Homo sapiens: one gene and its partners. The protein of the gene in region 4 purifies or fractionates together with the protein of the main gene of each other region. This does not show direct contact. Each region holds a gene or a part of one and is shown on either strand. Other genes may lie near its edges.

What was found. Proteins that work in one complex are often made in the same cells at the same time.
Region 1: the proteins of TPTE (region 4) and ATP2B1 purify together in Homo sapiens (affinity purification with mass spectrometry; 2 studies listed by BioGRID and IntAct, with this or other methods). This does not show direct contact.
Region 2: the proteins of TPTE (region 4) and SEC63 purify together in Homo sapiens (affinity purification with mass spectrometry, with the first as the bait; 2 studies listed by BioGRID). This does not show direct contact.
Region 3: the proteins of TPTE (region 4) and AMFR purify together in Homo sapiens (affinity purification with mass spectrometry; 2 studies listed by BioGRID and IntAct, with this or other methods). This does not show direct contact.

Annotation. Positions count from the first base shown.
Region 1 is NC_000012.12:89,618,339-89,621,838, forward strand, and holds part of ATP2B1 (plasma membrane calcium-transporting ATPase 1), read right to left. Parts: intron 3,454-3,500; coding exon 3,211-3,453; intron 1,903-3,210; coding exon 1,661-1,902; intron 1-1,660. UniProt on the Homo sapiens protein: Catalyzes the hydrolysis of ATP coupled with the transport of calcium from the cytoplasm to the extracellular space thereby maintaining intracellular calcium homeostasis.
Region 2 is NC_000006.12:107,951,709-107,955,208, forward strand, and holds part of SEC63 (translocation protein SEC63 homolog), read right to left. Parts: intron 1-3,500. UniProt on the Homo sapiens protein: Mediates cotranslational and post-translational transport of certain precursor polypeptides across endoplasmic reticulum (ER). Proposed to play an auxiliary role in recognition of precursors with short and apolar signal peptides.
Region 3 is NC_000016.10:56,408,546-56,412,045, forward strand, and holds part of AMFR (E3 ubiquitin-protein ligase AMFR), read right to left. Parts: intron 1,044-3,500; coding exon 879-1,043; intron 1-878. UniProt on the Homo sapiens protein: E3 ubiquitin-protein ligase that mediates the polyubiquitination of lysine and cysteine residues on target proteins, such as CD3D, CYP3A4, CFTR, INSIG1, SOAT2/ACAT2 and APOB for proteasomal degradation.
Region 4 is NC_000021.9:10,520,167-10,524,382, reverse strand, and holds the start of TPTE (putative tyrosine-protein phosphatase TPTE), read right to left. Parts: upstream 2,801-4,216; 5' UTR 2,689-2,800; intron 1-2,688.

The DNA of each region.
Region 1 (3,500 bases), on a different chromosome or scaffold from region 4:
TTAAGTGCCACAGAGTTGGTGGTCATCACCCGCTTTCTCAGATGAGAAAAATGGAAGTAAGGGAAAAATCTGCCCCATATCCAGAAGCTAGTTAGTTGCAGAGAAAGAGTCAATGCCTGATCAGTTTTGACTAAAAAAAATTCTCTCCTAAACCATCTATCTACTACCCAGCAAGCCAGGGTTGAAACAGATTTCTAACCTTTTCAATGAAATCAGGTAACTGAGTGTACTGTGGCAAGAAGAAAGCTGTATATGGCCTGTGTGCCACAAAAGCCCATCACTATTCAGCTGAACTATACAACCAGATATTCCCCTCCCCAGTATGACCTGCATATTCTCATCTCCTTTCCTCTGCTGTGGTTTCCCCACCTCGAAGTTCTCATTTCATACCAAAATCTATCTTAAATGCCACATCCCTACAGTGTGATCTCTCACCCAAAAACTTTGTACCAATTTATTATATGCTGCCTTCAGTTATTTATTTATATATTTGTCTCTTAAACTAATTGTAAAGTGTTCATTAATACTGGCTTATAATCCACATGTAAGCAAATTAAAAGTATATCTTAAACATTTACTTTAATATTTTAAATATTATAATTTCAAATGAGTTCCAATTTTCCCAACTTGCTCTTAACCAGTATTTTTTTTTAACCAGTTCTCTACTTCTTTAATGAAATTAAAGAAACTAAAATAATTTCACCACCTTTAATAACAAATAAACATCAGGGAAATTATATGTGAACATGTAATAACAAAATTAAAGCTACTGATCTGTAAAAGGACAGTAAGAAAAATTAGTATTCAAAATGACAGGAGATATTTAAATACGACACTGCAGCAGCATAAACATGATAAATCTCATTTTGATATAAATGGGGAATTTCCAAGATCCAGCTTTTATGCTTTGCTATTCTAAAAATTACTTCATAATTCTCTTATCACATTCAGAGTCCAGTAACCACAATGAGCGTTGAAGATCTAAACTTGAGGCCAGGTGCAGTGACTCACGTCTGTAATCCCAGCACTTTGGGAGGCCGACACAGGCAGATTACTTGAGGTCAGGAGTTCAAGACCAGCCTGGCCAACATGGTGAAACCCTGACTCTACTAAAAATACAAAAATTAGCCAGGCGTGGTGGCAGGTGCCTGTAATCCCAGTTACTTGGGAGGCTGAGGCAGGAGAATCCCTTGAACCCAGGGGCGGAGGGTGAAGTGAGCTGAGATCGCGCCACTGCACTCCAGCCTGGGTGATACAGGGAAACTCCACCTTAAACAAATAAAAAAAAAAAAAAAAAGAAAGAAAGAAAGACATAAACTTGATTTTCTTCCCAGGAGGCTTTTCAAGATTCTGCATATTAAATAACAAGTAAATCGACTTCTAAAAATAAACATCAAAGTATACTTCATTAAACATACCAGATTGAATGTAATGAGCTTATTTTCCCTATAACAAAATGCTAAGAAATAAGAGAAGCTAGAGTGTGAAAATGGCAGAATAGCAGGGGCAAATATCTGGATACCATAAAATATGCTAAAAAACTCTGAGGTCCTATCAAATGCCTGATGTTCACAAAAAGACAACAACAATAACAACACAGTAGATACTCCATAAAGCAACTATAGTCAGCAATTTATTCATCCAAGCATTTTACTCTTACTTTTTCAGAATTATCTCAGATGCACCCTTGCTGAATATTCGATAACTTCCATCTGAATTTTTCAGGACAGTACTCATGGACTTCCTAACAGAATTGAAGGTGTAGACTTTGTACAGTGCTTCTTCTGGTATTTCATTTCTAACATCCTGATAATCCCGTTTTAAATCCAAAAGAAGTCCCAACAAGGCACATTCAGTTTTATTACCAACGTGACGAGGTAATCCACCCTCTTTCTCTGGTGGCTATAAGAGAAAAACATTTAGTAGCTAGTATCTCGTTTCTCTAAGAACGTTTAATTTATAATGTAAAACAGACTGCGATATTCTAAAATAAAATTACAAAGCAATTGTCTAATATCAACATTTTAAAGAAGGATATAGAAAAGTAAGGTAGAAAGGAGCCTGGGGTGAGAATGACATGGATTCTAATCTCAGTCCTGCCAGTTACTAGCTACGTGAAATTTGACAATTACCCAACTGCTTTGGTCCTTGGCTTCAGCATCTGTAAAATAGGAGCACTTATGACCCCAAAATTAAGTGATATAAGATGTATGAAGTTTATAGTTGGTTCCTAATACAGAGTGGAACTTAATTTTAATTTCCTTTTCCTGTTTTCACTTAACTTTTATACTAAATCATTCAAAATTAAATCTACCAATTTTTATGGCTTAAAAGTACATTCATTAAAATACTGTTCTCTTAAATGCAGTGAGAAGCTTCAATTCCTTCATAGTGCCTTCAGAAATACCACTTTACATAATTATCACAATGGTATTAAGGGCAGATGTGATCATCTTTACTCAGTAATTAAAGAAGGTAGCTCAGACTTTCAGCTAGTAAAAGGCAAAGCTAGATCTAGAACCAAGATCCCATAACTTTCCAATGTAATCATCCAATTCATGTATGTTTTCCCTAATGAACAGCTTGCAATATTATTTTTGTTAATGATTTTCATCCATAAATCACTAGAAGAGATTAAGTCAAACATAACATCGCATTCTTTCTGTTATAAATAAGATTTTTAAAACTTGTAAGTTGAAAATTTTTTATTATATGGTGGCACAAGTCTAGAATTACTTTACTGCATTAGTTCTAAAAAGGTCTAAGGACCACCTTTTAGGTAGGAACTACTGAGAAACCAAACAGAACACATGGCAACCATATATAAAACATGTTATTTTAAGTTGAAATCGGCTTAAAAATTTTCTGTAAGTTGAGAGCTGACCTCCTATAGTAAGACAGTTTGATCTTTCTCAAAAATGAGCTTAACAAGAATTTAAAATTAAATACATGCTCTGGTTATAAGGCTGGAGAGTTTCTGAACACAGGAAATTCAAAATATAGGAGAAAAATGTAAGCAAACAATGTTTATGTTGATCAGCAGACCTCACTCATAACACAAATTTAAAAACCATTATATAAATAAATATATGCCTTTTAAAAACTTAACAGTTCAGTTTACATACAGTAATGGTGGTCTGAAGACTTACATATAGTCTGATCATTATAGATTTAAAAATTAATTTTCATAAATTATTTCAAAAACCTTACCAATATTTTTGATGTATAAGCACAATTCACAGAAATTCCTGTTACAAGATAGGACAAAATATTTGGTGGAATAGCTTCTGGTTCAGGAACCTTTTTATAATGTTTTTCATTTATGTAAGCTTGAACGACTGTCATTCTGTTCATTGTCAAAGTTCCTGTTTTATCTGAACAAATAGCTGTAGCATTTCCCATGGTTTCACAAGCATCCAGATGCCTTACTAAGTTATTATCTTTCATCATTTTCTACAGTGACCAAAAAAAAAAAACTAGTTAAGCTGCATATAAAACCA
Region 2 (3,500 bases), on a different chromosome or scaffold from region 4:
CGCGGTGGCTCAAGCCTGTAATCCCAGCACTTTGGGAGGCTGAGGCAGGCGGATCATGAGGTCAGGAGATCAAGACCATCCTGGCTAACCCCGTCTCTACTAAAAATACAAAAAATTAGCCAGGCGTGGTGGTGGGCGCCTGTGGTCCCAGATACTCGGGAGGCTGAGGCAGGAGAATGGGGTGAACCCAGGAGGCAGACCTTGCAGTGAGCTGAGACCGCGCCACTCCACTCCAGCTTGGGTGACAGAGCGAGACTCCATCTCAAAAAAAAAAAAAAAAAGTTCCCGAAGTGATTCTAATGTGTAGCCAGGGTTAAGAATCACTATGCCAAGGAAATCTAAGCCCTCCGTGTTATCATTGCATACAGAGCTTTTGTCCTTAATTGTCTGAAGAAATATTCATTTTATTCAGCCAATTTGCAAACCAAGAGAGTAAAACAAATAACTACTAAAAGGGGTATTAATTATAAGTACGCTTAGCTAAACATGTTAAGCAGAAATCAAGGCAAAAGTATTCCATTAATAATGTTTTAGATAACAGGTACGTTCAATTAACATGTCAAATATGCCAATAAACGAACTATTTCCATTTTTCAAACCGCAGACTTTACAAGCTGTGAAATGGTGCTATGCTTTCTGGTGTATTCAAGAGCCCACTAATTCCAAAACAGCCATGCTGAAACGACTGTCAACCTTAAAAATTGAAAGTCCCAAATGTGTTGCAGAAAACACACAAAAAAAAACCTCAATAAAGATTAGTTAAACTGGGCCGGGCACAGTGGCTCACAGCTGTAATCCCAGCACTTTGGGAGGCCGAGGTGGGCAGATCCCTTGAGGTCAGGAGTTGGAAACCAGCCTGGCCAACATGGTGAAACTCTGTCTCTACTAAAAATACAAAAATTAGCCGGGCGTAGTGGCAGGCACCTGTAATACCAGCTACTTGGGAGGCCGAGGTGGGAGAACTGCTTGAATCTGGGAGGTGGAGGTTGCAGTGAGCCAAGATCTTGCTATTGCACTGGAGCCTGGGCAACAGAGCGAGACTTCATGCCAAAACAAACAAAAAAAAAATTACTTAAACTGAACTTTAAGGTTGTGTAACTGCCAGAGCAAACCTTTTCATGCTTTCATGCACATGCTATCTCTGAAAATACTGTCAGAAGTCTGAAATTCAAACGCATGCCTACATTTTTGTATTTGGCTACTTAACTGTTTCACAGGAAAACTAAATAAACTAAGCCTCAAAAACAAGTATTAAAATATGCTGCTGTGGCCAGGGAACAGTGGCTCACGCCTGTAATCCCAGGACTTTGGGACGCCGAGGCAGGTGGATCAATTGAGGTCAGAAGTTCGAGACCAGCCTGGCCAACATGGTGAAACCCCATCTCTACTAAAAATACAAAAATAAGCCAGGCATGGTGGCTCGCGCCAGTTTTCCTAGCTACTCAGGAGGCTGAGGCACGAGAATCGTTTGAACACGGGAAGCAGAGGTTGCAGTGAGCCGAGATCACGCCACTGCACTTCAGCCTGGGTGACAGAGCAAGGCTCCATCTCAAAAAATAAAAATACTTATATATGCTGTTGTGTTTCCCCAAAACTGTACTACGGGGGTCCTCATCTTTTACTTAAAATCCTTAAGAACAAATGTGCTTCAGAATTTTTCAGATTTGCCCCGTCCGGGAAGGAGGTGGGGGGGTCAGCCCCCCGCCCGGCCAGCCGCCCCGTCCGGGAGGTGAGGGGCACCTCTGCCCGGCCGCCCCTACTGGGAAGTGAGGAGCCCCTCTGCCCGGCCAGCCGCCCCGTCCGGGAGGGAGGTGGGGGGTCAGCCCCCCGCCCGGCCAGCCGCCCCGTCCGGGAGGGAGGTGGGGGGGTCAGCCCCCCGCCCGGCCAGCCGCCCCGTCCGGGAGGTGAGGGGCGCCTCTGCCCGGCCGCCCCTACTGGCAAGTGAGGAGCCCCTCTGCCCGGCCAGCCGCCCCGTCCGGGAGGGAGGTGGGGGGTCAGCCCCCTGCCCGGCCAGCCGCCCTGTCCGGGAGGGAGGTGGGGGGTTCAGCCCCCCGCCCGGCCAGCCGCCCCGTCCGGGAGGGAGGTGGGGGTGTGAGCCCCCCGCCCGGCCAGCCGCCCCGTCCGGGAGGGAGGTGGGGGGGTCAGCCCCCCGCCCGGCCAGCCGCCCGGTCCGGGAGGTGAGGGGCGCCTCTCCTCAGCCGCCCCTACTGGGACGTGAGGAGCCCCTCTGCCCGGCCACCACCCCGTCTGGGAGGTGTACCCAACAGCTCATTGAGAACGGGCCATGATGACAATGGCGGTTTTGTGGAATAGAAAGAGGGGAAAGGCAGGGAAAGGATTGGGAAATCGGATGGTTGCCATGTCTGTGTAGAAAGAGGTAGACACGGGAGACTTTTCATTTTGTTCTGTACTAGGAAAAATTCTTCTGCCTTGGGATCCTGTTGATCGGTGACCCTACCCCCAACCCTGTGCTCTCTGAAACATGTGCTGTGTCCACTCAGGGTTAAATGGATTAAGGGCGGTGCAAGATGTGCTTTGTTAAACAGATGCTTGAAGGCAGCATGCTCGTTAAGAGTCATCACCACTCCCTAATCTCAAGTACCCAGGGACACAAACACTGCGGAAGGCCGCAGGGTCCTCTGCCTAGGAAAACCAGAGACCTCTGTTCACTTGTTTATCTGCTGACCCTCCCTCCACTATTGTCCTATGACCCTGCCAAATCCCCCTCTGTGAGAAACACCCAAGAATGATCAATTAAAAAAAAAAAAAAAATCAAAAAAAAAAAAAAAGAATTTTTCAGATTTTAGAAAAGTAACACAGCGTTTACACTCAAACAGACCCTATGGGGTCTAAAGTGCACCAATAACCAAACAAATTAATATTCCAAGACAGAACATAACTATTTATTAAGTGAGATAAAGATTATTCAGTAGCCTCCTGTCAGTACAAGTCGGCAAATTATTTTGCAGCAAACTTCTGAAAAAAGTTCCTTATTCAGAGCTTTGAATGAGGCAGTAATTCAAGATTTCTCTTTCATATTCAAGATACTGCAACTGGGCTGCAGAAAAAAAGTCACTATGATGAAAACATCCTTTTACTACAACTGTAATTCCACAGAAACAACTCAAGTTATTAGGGTAAATCCAAGAAAAAAGTCCAAGTGGTGCCCAACAATTTTCATAATGATTAGAATAGCATTTAAGTATTCACCTTAATTTTCATAACACAATTTTGAGCAAGAGCAAACAAATACATCAAAATATGCATATGGACTAAGGCAAGCCTGAAGCAGAGAGCCGGATGTAAAACGGGCAAACTGACACCCATAATAGTTCACCTAACTTTCTATCTAGCAGTATGGAAACCACACAGGGCTCTGAAGCTAAGCGACCAATGTTCTAATCCCAGTTCAACCATACAGGAAAATTACTTACATGCTCTACCCTCAGTTTCTTTACCTGTAAATGGAGATAATAATAGAACCTACCTCACTGCATTGC
Region 3 (3,500 bases), on a different chromosome or scaffold from region 4:
AAATGCAATCCAGGCACAGGTTTACCACTACTACAACGTGATGTCAGCATTATGCAAGGAGAGGCAACAGTCTGAAAAGAAGGCCTAGAGCTGCAACTCCTGAGGTCACAGGCGGAGATTAAAAAAAACAGTTTGGGAGGTTAGAAGCTCCTGTTTGTGACTTCAAATGAGGGTTGAATGTGAAAGAAATAAAGGCTGTGAGAGTGAGATTAACTCAAACCAAGGTGCAAGGTCCATGTGGACTGGGTAAAGACAGGGAAAAACAAGGCCCTGGAGCGGGTTTAACTGAGGGGCAGCACTGTAGATGCACATTTATCTGGGACTCATGAGACTACTTCAGGTCACTAATGGGTTGAAGGTTCACTCATACAGCTATGATCTGAAACCAAGTGACAGATCTTGTACCAGACATAAAATGATTCACTTCGCAAACAAGGAAGCTGAGGGAGCTAATTCAGTCCTGGCCCGGGGTGGAAATAGTATAAACTACTCAGAAAGAAGAGCTCCACGAACCAGAGTAAGCTGGGAGAGACAGAAGGAGACTAGAACAGAAAATATCTAGAAAAGACCAGATTTTATTGTTTATGTATCAAGGTTTCCTTGCACTGTGAACAAAACAGTCTGCATAGGTGAAGTGACCCCATGTTAGCAGTAAGTAAACACTATGGGGTTGGGAAGAAAGCTCCCCAGGAGACAACGATTCTGCATCTCTTGGCTGCTGTAGAAAGTTCTTCAAGAAACAGGCAATGGGGGCCTGATCTAGAAGTCTTCCCAGAAGAGCTACCCTGACCATGCCTGCTGTGGCTCATTCACATTACACAATTCAAAGTTGGCAAACGTGGTGACTAAGCAAGCAAAAAGCTTGGCTAAAAACTCACATATTCAAATCGATCCTTGCAGAGCTGAACCATCAGGTGCAGAAAGACAAGTCCGGCAAACCAGAGGCACCACATGACCACCTCTTCCACTGTCTGGACATTCAGCACACCAAAGATGAAAATGAACTTGTAGAAAATAAAATTCCAAAATTTGTCTTTGAGATGCTAAAAAAGAAAAATGTTTATGAAGGTGAGTACCATCACACCTACCCCATTTGAGGGAAGTTACCATAACAAAAGCCGGCTTCTATGGAAGATATATTCTGCACTTGGCTTTCTAATACTTGTCCTCAAGAAAACAGAAAAAAAAAAAAAAAAAAAAAAAGCAGCCATCTGAAGAATGGAGGTAAGACACCCAGAAACTAATCTGTAAACTTTGGACTATAACCCTAAATCAATTATGGAATGTTAGCTATTCAAAGGATAGCGATATTAGTTTAGTAACTTATATATTAAGAAATAGGCCAGGCGCAGTGGCTCATATCTGTAACCCCAGCACTTTTGGAGGCTGAGGTGGGTAGACAGCTTGAGCTCAAGAGTTTGAGATGAGCCTCGGTAACATGGGGAAACCCCATCTCTACCAAAAAAAAAAATACAAAAATTAGCTGGGAATGGTGGTGCACACCTGTAGTCCCACCTACTCAGGAGGCTAAGGTGGGAGGATTGCTTGAGCCCAGGAGGTCAAGGCTACAGTGAGCCATCATCATGCCACTGCACTCCAGCCTGGGTGACAGAGCAAGACCTTCTCTCAAAAAAAAGAAAAAAATGCTTACATTTTTAATGCACAATGAAAAAGAATGGCAAGGGCTATCATTTTTACTACTTCTACCTTCCAGATTCTTACACAATAGAAAAGATTAGACTTTGTAAAAAAAATTCTTCAAATTAAAAAATAACACAACACAACCACTTGCCAGCCCATAATAAAGGCGGCATAAAAAGTACAAAGAAAATGAAAAATGCTGCCTTAACATTTTTATGAATTTTCTTGTCTTTTCCCTATGTACAAAACACATTACTTTTTGTACAATGCTTTCTTTCACCTATTGTATTGTTAGAACCTTAACAATGTCAATGAATATTCTCTGAATATACCAATATACCGTTTCAATGGCTAAAGATGGACACTGAAACTGTTTTAAAATTTTCACCACGCAAAAAAAACATTATAATGAGGGCCGGGCGTGGTGGCTCATGCACGAAATCCCAGCATTTTGGGTGGCCAGGGCAGGCGGATCACTTGAGCCCAGGAGTTCGAGACCAGCCTGGGTAACATGGCAAAATCCTGTCTCTACTAAAAATACAAAAATTAGCTGAGCATGGTGGCACAAGCCTGTAATCCCAGCTACTTGGGAGGCTGAGGCATTAGAATTGCTTGAACCTGGGAGGTCGAGGTTGCAGGGAGCCATGATCATGCCACTGCACTCCAGCCTGGGCAACAGAGCAAGACTCTGTCTCAAAAAAAAAAAAAAATTGTGATGAATATTTTTGTATGTATCTTTGTATGAGTTACTTCAGCACTGTCAAATCAAAAATTGCAAAGATTTTTATGGTTTATAGTAAAATCTACCTAACTTCCAAAGCAGTCCTGTAAGTGTACATTCCCATGGGCAGTGTGTATGCATATTTGCTTCACTGTACTCTTTTACACAGAGGGCTTCCAGTTTTAACAATCTTCACTAACCCTGAAATAGGAGAGCAATAAGGAGGGTCTAGTTCCCCCACATGTTAAAATAGACTATCAAGCCGTCTAGGGGGGTCAGGGAGAACTGACTGAAGAGGATAAGAATGGAAGCATGATTCTAAGTATACTTTTTTTTTTTTTTTTAAAGAGACAGAGTCTCACTCTGTCATCCTGGCTGGAGTGCAGTGGCCCAGTAGTAGCTCACTGCAGCCCCAAACTCCTGCGCTCAAGCGATCCTCCCACCTCAGCCTTCTGAGTAGCTGGGATTACAGGCACATGACATCATGCCCGGCTAATGTTTTTTATATTTATATTTTGCAGAGATGGGGCCTCCCTCTGTTGCTAAGGCTGGTCGCAAACTCCTGGGCTCAAGTGATCCCACCTTGGTCTCCCAAAAGAATGCTTTTATATGTAATTTGGAACCATGTAAATGTTTCACAAATTCAAAAAATAAACACAAAAAAGCAAAATATACTACAAATTAACAACGTGACTCCTTAAAGATTTTGAGAACTTAAACACACTGTACTCTGACCAGATATCTTTTGTAGAGAACAAAATAAAGTGGAAAAAAATCATAGAGTATGCCCTAATTCTATCCATCAAAAGGGCAGAGACACCCTAGTGGTAATGAGCACACTCAGCCAGTATACAGCTTGGCTTCTAAATATCATTGCCCAATAACGTGAACTAGGAATCGTTGGTGAAATGTCTGTTTCCAGACCTGGTGCAGGGAAAGTACAAGGTGAACTTAGGACATTTTGTGCCCTGGTTTTGAATGACACTGCCACTTGGCTCTGCCATTTAGTTTCTGTGTGACCTTGGGAAAGTCACTTAACATCCCTGTGCTTTAGTTTCCTCATCCATACAATAGGTCTTATAATAACAGCATATACCTCATAGAATTGTTGGGGGAATTATACATAATATATGTGAAA
Region 4 (4,216 bases):
AGGGTAAGGGGACTCTGTAAGGTCCCTGGGAGGGGAAAGGAATGTCAATTAGTGGTCCCCCCAGCTGGGTATAAGCAAACTTTCCTGTCTATGGGCCGCAGAGACCACCATCTAGTTCCCCCGCCAAAACTTTACATGATTTTAATTCTCCTGATGAAGATGAGAGGATAACAGCCAACAGAGAGGGCAGAGGATGGGATGGGACTCCCTTGCTCAGAGACCTCACCTCTAGGTCTTTACCTCCTATTGAGAATAAGTCAGTTCTGTAGTAAGAACTCTGTGTCCACGGCAACCCCAAACAGAATCCTAGCGCTCTTGTGATTCTTGTAGAATGGGGAATAGAACGAGCTTGGCCCAAGACTGCACAGACTTAAAAACATACTATTCTTTGAAAATGGCAATCATTAAAAAGTCAGGAAACAACAGGTGCTGGAGAGGATGTGGAGAAATAGGAACACTTTTACACTGTTGGTGGGACTGTAAACTAGTTCAACCATGGTGGAAGTCAGTGTGGCGATTCCTCAGGGATCTAGAACTAGAAATACCATTTGACCCAGCCATCCCATTACTGGGTATATACCCAAAGGACTATAAATCATGCTGCTATACAGACACATGCACACGTATGTTTACTGCAGCACTATTCACAATAGCAAAGACTTGGAACCAACCCAAATGTCCAACAATGATAGACTGGATTAAGAAAATGTGGCACATATACACCATGGAATACTATGCAGCCATAAAAAATGATGAGTTCATGTCCTTTGTAGGGACATGGATGAAATTGGAAATCATTCTCAGTAAACTATCGCAAGAACAAAAAACCAAACACTGCATATTCTCACTCATAGGTGGGAACTGAACAATGAGAACACGTGGACCCAGGAAGGGGAACATCACACTCTGGGGACTGTTGTGGGGTGGGGGGAGGGGGGAGGGATAGCATTGGGAGATATACCAAATGCTAGATGAGGAGTTTGTGGGTGCAGCGCACCAGCATGTCACACGTTTACATATGTAACTAACCTGCACATTGTGCACATGTACCCTAAAACTTAAAGTATAATAAAAAAAATACTGTTCTGCCATACATACAGATACTCATTAAAGATGAGGGAGAAGGGCATGGGGTGGGGGAGAATGTACCAAAACCAAAGACCACAGGATAATAACCTCAGAGCAGAGACTATCTCTCTAGTTATTTTTTCTTTTGTATGTAATGGAGAGGATTATTATTTACTCTGATGAAGAAGTTTACATCAAGTGTTCAGCTTCCTTTGTGGGTTACAGAGAATAACCAGAGGGCTCAGTTATGCTCTCTGAATAACTATGTTTGCTTAGTGTTTTCTAAACAATATTAAATTTCACTAAAATAGACAAGGTTGATAGGACTTGGGGGCATAACTCATTGACTCAAGCTATCATTTTATAGGATTGTGAGAAAACAAATAGATGAACATTTAAAATACACTCATATTCTCGCTAGAAAAGAGGATTTTGAATATTCTTACATCAAAGACATGGTAAATGTTTAAGGCAATGAATATGCTAATTACCATGATTTGATCATTATGCAATGTAAAATGTACTGAAACATCACATTGTACCTCATAAATATGTACAATTTATTATGTGCGAATTAAAATTTTGAGTATAAGAAAAAATAAACTTCAATTGTAAGAAAACAACCCAACTTTTAAAAAACGGGCAAAATACGTGAACAGATACTTCACTAATAGAGATTTGCAACTGGCAAATAAGCAAATGAAAAACTGGTCATCATCACTATCTATTAGAGAAATGCAGATTAAAACTACAATAAGAAACAATGCTGCCCGTCCAGACGCATTGTTTTGACCGTTTCCAACTTGTCCCAGCCCTTCCCGGGGCATCGCTGGGGACCCTACGCCGACGTCCCCCCTCCGCCCGCGCCCCAAGGGCCGACTGGGCAAATTGGGAGACCCGCCCCGCGGGGCGACCCAACTTTTCGGAACAGCACCCCACCGCCCACCCCCGCAGACCCCCGGACCCCCGCTCCCGGCGGAGACTCAGGGAACCCCGCACCCCAAGCCCTTCTAAATCGTGCAGCGTGAGTGTGACGGCCAAGAGCGGATGCAGCCCGGGATCGCCCGCACCTTCCCGTGGGCGGAAGCGCAGGAGCCAGCTGGGGAGGGGGCGCCCTAGAGGAGCGGCTAGAAAGCAGACACGGGGAACTCAGGTCATCCTGGGGGGGGACAAGACAACGAGAGCCGGGCGCCTCGGGGGCGGCGCGGGAGCCTCCGCAGGACCGGGCGGGCGCCCCGGCTGGCGCGGGCGGGGGGCGCGCCCCCTTTACCTGCGGCTCCGGCTCCTAGGCCATTTCCTCACGCGGCGGCGGCCGGGACTGAGCTAACACCACTCAGGCCGGCCGGGTTTGAATGAGGAGGAGCGGGCGCGGAGAGGAGGGGACGGGGAGGGCGGAGGGAGGGAGGGAGGCGTCGCGGAGTTTTTCTCGGCCTTTTGTGCGGACACCTCCCGGATTCCGCGCCCGCACCCGGCCCCCCAAAAGACACGGGGAGCCGCGGGCGAGGGGTTCAGCCATCCGCCGAGGCGCCTAGTGCCTTCGCGCCTCCAAGACCCCCCCCCAACAAAAAGGAGCGTCCCCCACCCCTACCCCCGCCCGGAGGACTTAGGGCCTGGGCTCACCTCGGGCGCGGAGCTAAGTGTAGGCGCCGGGGGTCCCTAGAGCCGCCGGGGCGCAGCGAGTCCGGCGCTGGGTAACTGTTGGGTCAGAAACTGTTCAGGTAGCAGCTGTTGTGCCCTCCCTTGGCCCCGCCGCTCGGAGACGCCCCGCCCCCTGCCTTGAACGGCCGCCCGGCCCCGCCCCAGCGCCCACGTGACTAGCATAGGCGCGCCCCCGTTCCGCCCGCCGCCGCAGACTCCGCCTCCGGGACGCGAGCGAGCGGCGAGCGCGCGCACTACCAGTTCTTGCTCGGCGACTCCCGCGCACGCGCGCGCCGTGCCACCCTCCCCGCACCCCTCCTCCCGCCATCCGGCTTAACGTGGCGGGCGCGCGCCGCGGCAGTAGCCGTGACAGGTACCCGGCGGGGCGGGGGGGGAGGGGGTTGGCCCGCGAGGGTGTGCGCAGGCACAGACCCGGGTCCTGTCCCCGCCGCCCCCTCCTCTGCAAGGTGTGCCTGGGCGAGGGGAGGGGCCCGCGGCCCGAACCCCTGGGTCACCCCCGAATTACAAACAAAAACCTTAACGCCATTGCTCGCGGGTTAGAAGGCAGCTGTGCGTGCTCAGGAAAAGAAGCCACGCACAAGAGACCGCACGCGGCGTGGATACAGTGACACGAAACACCCAAAATCTCTTTTGAAAGGGAAACCAGGCACAGTGGCTCATGCCTATAATCCCAGCACTTTCGGGGGCCAAGGCGCTCACCTAAACCCGAGAGTTCAAGACCAGCCTGGGCAATACAGCGAAACCCTGTCTCTACGAAAAATATAAAAATTAGCTGGGCATAGGGCTGGGCACGGTGGCTCACGCCTGTAATCCCAGCATTTTGGAGGCCGAGGCGGGCGGATCACGAGGTCAGGAGTTCCAGACCATCCTGGCTAACACAGTGAAACCTTCTCTCTACTAAAAATACAAAAAAAATTAGCCGGGCGTGGTGGCAGGTGCCTGTAGTCCTAGCTACTTGGGAGGTTGAGGCAGGAGAATGGCATGAATCAGGGAGCGGAGGCTGCAGTGAGCTGAGATTGCGCCACTGCACTCCAGCCTGGGGGACAGAGTGAGACTCCGTCTCAAAAAAAAAAATAATAATTAGCTGGGCATGGTGGCTGGCACACATGGTCCCAGCTACTCAGGAGGCTGAGGTGGAAGGATCTCTTGATCCCGGGGAGGTCAAGGCTGCAGTGAGCCAAGATGGCATCACCGCACTCCAGCCTGGGCCACAGACCCTGTCTCAAAAAAAAAAGAGAAAGTGGGGAAGAAAATGTAATACAAATTAATATACCAACAGCAATTAGTGAGTACTTTTTCCATGGAGCTGGGAGAGGGAATAAATGTTTGTAAAATTAAAATGTTCTACGCTAGAAATCAACTTTCCTTCTATGCTTTCTTTACTTCACCCCTTATAGCTACTTAGTAAATCTCACAAATCCTATCCTTCTGATCTCTCTGAAATGTATGTACCCTTTCCCTTCTATTCTCACCACCCATGTTTCTTTGT